Linked DNA regions of Homo sapiens: region 1 is linked to region 2. The links come from fine-mapping of genetic effects on gene expression. A gene starts in region 2. The other region holds a variant in brackets. All regions are shown on one strand. Distances are between the middles of the regions.

Evidence for each region. PIP is the estimated chance that this variant, and not a neighbour inherited with it, causes the effect.
Region 1: its variant is fine-mapped to the expression of EEF1A2 in esophagus muscle (GTEx, PIP 0.95).

The regions. Positions count from the first base shown.
Region 1 is chr20:63,476,685-63,479,575 of GRCh38, reverse strand. No RefSeq gene overlaps it. Among named protein-coding and RNA genes, the nearest start is that of KCNQ2, 5.5 kb to the right of the region's middle. RefSeq lists enhancers at 1-778, 779-1,591. The variant C/T (reference allele first, on the strand shown) is at 1,524.
Region 2 is chr20:63,497,356-63,500,246 of GRCh38, reverse strand. It overlaps EEF1A2 (eukaryotic translation elongation factor 1 alpha 2), which reads left to right and starts at 1,164. Exons shown (of 8, transcript NM_001958.5): 1 at 1,164-1,189; 2 at 2,413-2,627. The coding sequence starts at 2,484. LOC124904955 (a long non-coding RNA gene) reads right to left here and starts at 1,965. Exons shown (of 2, transcript XR_007067719.1): 1 at 1,624-1,965. RefSeq lists enhancers at 530-1,099, 1,360-2,155, 2,781-2,891.

The DNA of each region.
Region 1 (2,891 bases), 21 kb after region 2:
TGTCCCCACATGGCACGAAGCAGAGAAGGGAACCCAGCGCCCGTGTCTCTTCCCCTGAGGGTGCTGGTCCTCTTCCGAGGGCTCCACCCTCCTGACCCAGTCACCCCCAAAGGCCCCCTCTCCTAACACCATCACACTGGAGTGAGGGTTTCAGCATGTGGATTCTGGGGACACATCCAGTCCACGCAGGCCTGAGTGGCCGCCTGGTCTGCTGAAAGCCACTCAGCTCGGGCAGGCCCATGGCGGCTGCCTGCGGGCCATACTCTCTGCAGCCCACACCAGCGCCGCCCTCTGCAGGGGCTGAGGCAGATGCTGCTGGGTGCCGAGGGTGGCGCCTTCGTGTTTGCCGGAGGGTGTGGGGCAGCGGGCCGCCCTGGGAGCCTTGGGACTCGCCGGACTTCAGCTCTGTGCAGCCTCTGGTGTGCAGCTTGGAGAACCCAGCCTTTCTGAACCATCCACCTGGTGTGGCGCTAGATGACCTTGTCCTGGATGTGGGGTGGGGAGGGCTGTGACAGTCCATGGGCCTTGCCAAGGCTGGATGGCCCCGCCCAAAGCCTACTGGACATCTGGCCAAGCAAGGCCCTGGTGAGCGTGGGCAGGACGTTGGTGGGTGGGCAGCCAGGGCACAGATGCAGCCTGCATGGGCAGGACGTCTGGCCGCTCCGCTAGTCCTGAGCTCCAGCTGCCCATGTCCTCTTGGGGTCTCCCCGGCAGCCCTGAGCCACACAAGCCCCAGGCCTGTGACTGAGGCCACATCTGGCTGGGGGCTCCAGCGACGTCCAGCCCCAGGTCAAAGTGGCCATCTGTCATCTGACAGGTTGACATGCACCTTCCTTGGGCTAGGTGGGGCTGTGAGTGTCTGTGCCCACCCCTCCCCCCACACCTTGTGCGCTCTGTGCAGTGGGGCAGCAGCGCCAGGCAAAACAGTTTCCCATCGGGATGAGGACCAGCTCCAGAGAAGGTGGGGAGGGGACCCCGCGCCAGGGCCTCCCTGAGAAGAAGCAGTGTCTGCCATCCTGGTGAGCAGAGGAGACAGCAAATGCAAGAGCTCCTTGCCTGCTCAGGGATGTCGGGGTGGCCGTGTGCCCAGGAAGGGAGGACGGGGGCAGAGGGGTCGGTGGTCTTGGAGCGTGTGGCAGGGCCAGGTCTCAGGAGCGAGGAGGCCTTGATGAGGAAAGCATTTGGGTAGCGTCGAGGTGCCAGGGAGTCTGGATGTGTAGATCCACGGTGGGGCCTGGTCTCTCCCACGAGTGAGCGTGGCGCCTGCGTTCCTCACGATATATCTGCCACAGAACGGGGACGATTGCCACAGCTTCTCCATTTGCCTGAAGGCATAGGAGGGGGCGTGTGGGAGGCCACCTGTGACACCTGTGGACCAGAGATGACAACATATGGGGTTTGGGGATGCCACGGCACAGCATCAAGCAGAGAGTTCCCTCGAGGTCCCAGAGCTACAGGTGGATTTCTGCCCTTTCCGGATGCCTCCGGAGCCACCGTAGCTCCCCAGCCGTCACAGCTGACCA[C/T]GGGCTCCTCAATTGACGGTATTATTGGTGGCTGGGAAGTACAAGTCAACTCCCTCATGCAATTAGCCGGCTTGCCAGGGGCTAGGGAAGCTTATTGAGAGCCTTGGTCCTTTAGAAAAAACTGTAAATTAAATTTTTATTGACTTTAGTGTAAGATGTTAAAAAAAATCAATGCTTTCATATCTTAAATCTTTTCCTCACTCCCCTGCTCCCCCGCAAGCGGATAAATACAGCCTTTCCTCCTCCTAATAATGTAAAATTCCTTTGGGGGGGCTGGGCCTCCCTGTCTGGGGAGGCACTTCCTGTCGCCCAAATTACAGGGTTAAACCCGCAGCAGCTCTGGCCCAGGTGAGATGACTGAGAACCTGTCTCTCCTCATCTCATTTCCCCAAATTAAATGTTGTTCCTCCTCCAGGCCTCTGTGGGGTCGTCTGTTTTTCTGAAGGTGCAGTGACGGGGAAGCAGCTCCCTCCGTTTCCACCGGGAGGCACGGGCCCAGGTGAGATGACTGAGAACCTGTCTCTCCTCATCTCCTCATTTCCCCAGATTAAATCTTGTTCCTCCAGGCCTCTGTGGGGTCGTCTGTTTTTCTGAAGGCGCAGTGACGGGGAAGCAGCTCCCTCCATTTCCACTGGGAGGCACGGGGTGGTGGCCTGGGAGGCCCTGCTTTCCAGTGTCCGCAGGGGCTATTGTCACTGGTGCCGAGGCCCTCAGAACGCAGGTGAAGCTGAGCACCTGGGCACAGATCCCACCCATGACAGCACAGCGTCAAAAGAGCATAAAATCTGGCCTGTTCTAGCAGGGGCCACAACCCGCGGGGGCCACCAGCACCATGTAGCCGTCTTGCACAAACTCACAGTGGCAGTCCCCGCCTCCCCGATCCCGCTGCTGACGGCCCCACACAGGAGGGCGGCCAGAGGAAGCTCATATGCCTCTCAAGTCACTACCCATGCTTGGTTTCCTGGGGTTTTTGTTCGTTTGTTTTTTTTGTTGTTGTTTTTTGTTGTTAAGATGGAGTCTCGCACCATTGCCCAGGCTGGAGTGCAATCATGCAATCTCGGTTCACTGTAAACTCCACCTCCCGGGTTCAAGTGAGTCTCCTTTCCCAGCCTCCCGAGTAGCTGGGATTACAGGCGAGCGCCACCCTGCCCGGCTAATTTTGTATTTTTAGTAGAGACGGGGTTTCTCCATGTTGGTCAGGCTGGTCCCGAACTCTCGACCTCAGGTGTTCCACCTGCCTCGGCCTCCCAAAGTTCTGGGATTACAGGCATGAGCCACTGTACCCGGCCTGTTTTGTTTTTTTTTTGAGACGGAGTCTTGCTCTTGCCGCCCAGGCTGGAGTGCAGTGGCATGATTTCAGCTCACTGC
Region 2 (2,891 bases):
GGTGCCAGGGCTCTGCCCCCACTCAGCACACACCTCCCGAGACCCCGCTGGCAGGAAGATCCGAGTGCGTGGGGGTGGGGGGGCAGCGTGGGAGGGAAGACCTGAATACCTGGGTGAGACGACAGGATCTTGGGGTCTGGAGAAAGCCCCTAACCTTGGTCTTCACACAACACATGGCTGCCACATCCCCTTCCTCACAACCCACGTTGGTCATTACCCGCGTGTGCCAGGACCTCAGGGACTCCCCACTTCCTACAGAGCGTGGCCCGGTCTTTGGCTTGGCATCCTGACCCCATATGAGCATCAGCTACAAGGCGCTGAGGTGCAGCGGGGTGGGGCGCTGGGCGGGGGGGCCTGGGTCTGTCTGGATCTGACTCGCCCTTGGCTGGCGCTGTTTCCCAGCAGCAGCCGGAGGTCGGCGCACCCGGAGGGGAGGGTCCCTGGAAGATGTCAGTGGGTCTGGGAGCGGGCTTCCGGCGTTCCCTGCACCGTGGGAGACCAGCCTCTCAGGGGGAGGGTGGTTCTGCGCTGGATCCTCGGGGCCTGTCATGGTGCGCCCAGGAGGGCAGGCACGTGAGGACAGGGACTGGAAACCAGCAGATTTCCACCCTGAGGCCTGCACCCCCGGGCCTCATTAGGGAGAGCCCCTCAGAGCCGGGCTTCGTTGGTTCTGGGGCGTCCCCCATGAGCAGGGCCGGGGAGGGGCCGGTAGACCCAGGCTCGTCTCCCAGGCTGCAGCCCACCTGCTCCCCTCCCCCGCCTGCCGGCTCCGGTCCTCGGCGTCTGCCCTGTCCCCGGGGACCGCTTTTCGCGGCTCAAGCGTGTTCCTGCCCTGAGCCGGCTCTCGCCCCGTCTCCCGGGCCCGCCGCGCTCTCCCCGCGCCGTCTCCGTCCCGGTCCCTCCCTCCCGCCGCCTCCCTGCCCTGCCCCCCGCCCCGCCCCCGCCCGCGGCGCGTTTCTCCCCCGCCTCCCGCGTCCGTCTTTGCAGCCCGCGCCTCCCGCATCGCCTCGCGTCCCCGTGGCGCCCGCCCGCGCGCGTCCGCGCCCCGCCCCCTCCCGCGCGGTTCCGCATTGGCGTGCTGCAGGGCGCGGTGCACTGCGCCGCCACCGTCAATAGGTGGACCCCCTCCCGGAGATAAAACCGCCGGCGCCGGCGCCGCCAGTCCCTCTGGCTGAGACCTCGGCTCCGGGTAAGGACGCTCGGCCCCCGGGCCTCCGCCCCCGCCCCCGTCTTCCGAAGAGGGACCCCCGGGGCCGGTCCTGGGGGGCAGAGGGTGGCCGGGCCCCGCACCCGCCCCCGCGCGCGCCCGGAGTCCGGCTTCCGGGGGTCCCCGCGTCGGCCGGGCTGGGCCCGGGGTGGGGGGCGGCGCGGGGCGGCGGGGCCGGGTCCTGGGCGGCGATCGCCCCGTAGCCGTGACCTTGGGGCCGCGGGGACCCTGCGGGCCGGGGGCTGATGGGGGTCGGGCTTCGGGGCGCTGGGCCAGAGGACGCTGAGGGAGGTGGTGAGATCTGGGGGCCCTGGCCTCCCCACCCCCACCCGTGTTCCCACCCCAGGGTGGCTTCTGTCCTCTTTCCCTCCCCCAGCCACCTGTCCGCGAGGAGCAGCGTGGGTTTCTCCACTGACCTCTGTGATGGGACAGGGCTGTGACCCAGGGTCCTGAGTCACAGGGAGGGGGGGAGGGAGGGTGCCCCCTATACCCCCACGGGGCCGAGGGCATCTCCACCTGGCACTTGCTGGGCTCGGCAGGGCCGGGTCCTCCTTCCTCAGGCTGGAACAGGGACCCCCACCTCCCGGCCGCTGTCTGTCCCTGTGAGAGTCCGGGAGGGGGGTGCCTAGAGCTATTCTGGGTTCCTAATCTGGGCAGCGCATCTCCGTCGGGGCTCTGGCCCAGCCTGCCGGGCAGGGATGAGGGGAAGATGGCGCCGTCCCTGCCTGAGGAGGGGAGTGGGGAGCAGTGGCCATCTCTCCCCGGTGGCAGCGGGTGGGGGTGGGGCGCCGTGTCCCTGGCCCTGCCGCCGGGGAGGGGAGTGCGCGTGCAGGACAGGGCCCTGGAGCGCTGGGCAGGTGACTCATCACCCGGCTCTGCTGGTCACGGACGTACCCAGCCTGGCGCTGCGTGGTCTCTCCAAATGGTGGCTAACCCCTTCCCAAGGAGCAGCCCGCGGGCTCCAACGCCCAGTTATTTACAGCAGATGGGGCTGTTTGGGCTCAAGTGTGGGGTGGGGGCAGTGCACAGCCTCTGCTTGCCCTGGCCAGGCCCAGCTGTGGGTGGGGGCCCTTCCCTCCCCACCAAACATGGGGGCTTGGTTTGTGGGCAGGGATGCCTGTCCAGCCTGTGCCAGGACAGTCTCTGCTGGTGTCTCCCCCTGGGGCTCCCCATCACCGGTCTCCCCACCACCACTGGCCCCACAGAATCACTGCAGCCCCCCTCGCCCTGAGCCAGAGCACCCCGGGTCCCGCCAGCCCCTCACACTCCCAGCAAAATGGGCAAGGAGAAGACCCACATCAACATCGTGGTCATCGGCCACGTGGACTCCGGAAAGTCCACCACCACGGGCCACCTCATCTACAAATGCGGAGGTATTGACAAAAGGACCATTGAGAAGTTCGAGAAGGAGGCGGCTGAGGTGAGCTCCCCAGGCTATGGTCTTGGCCCCCTGAGAAGGAACCCCCAACTCCCGTGGTGGCCAGGCTTGGCATCTCCCAGCCCCAGGGCATGGGGCTCAGGTGACCTCCTCCAGGGCAGGAGGGACCCCCGCTGTGGGGCACTCAGGCCTCAGAGGGTCTGGTGGGGCAGCCTCTCTCTTAGGGGGAGCTTGGTGGGGGAGGGGTGGCCATCGAGCTGCCGGACTTGCCCTGTGGTGAGGGAGGTGACCTGGGAGGGTCTGCAG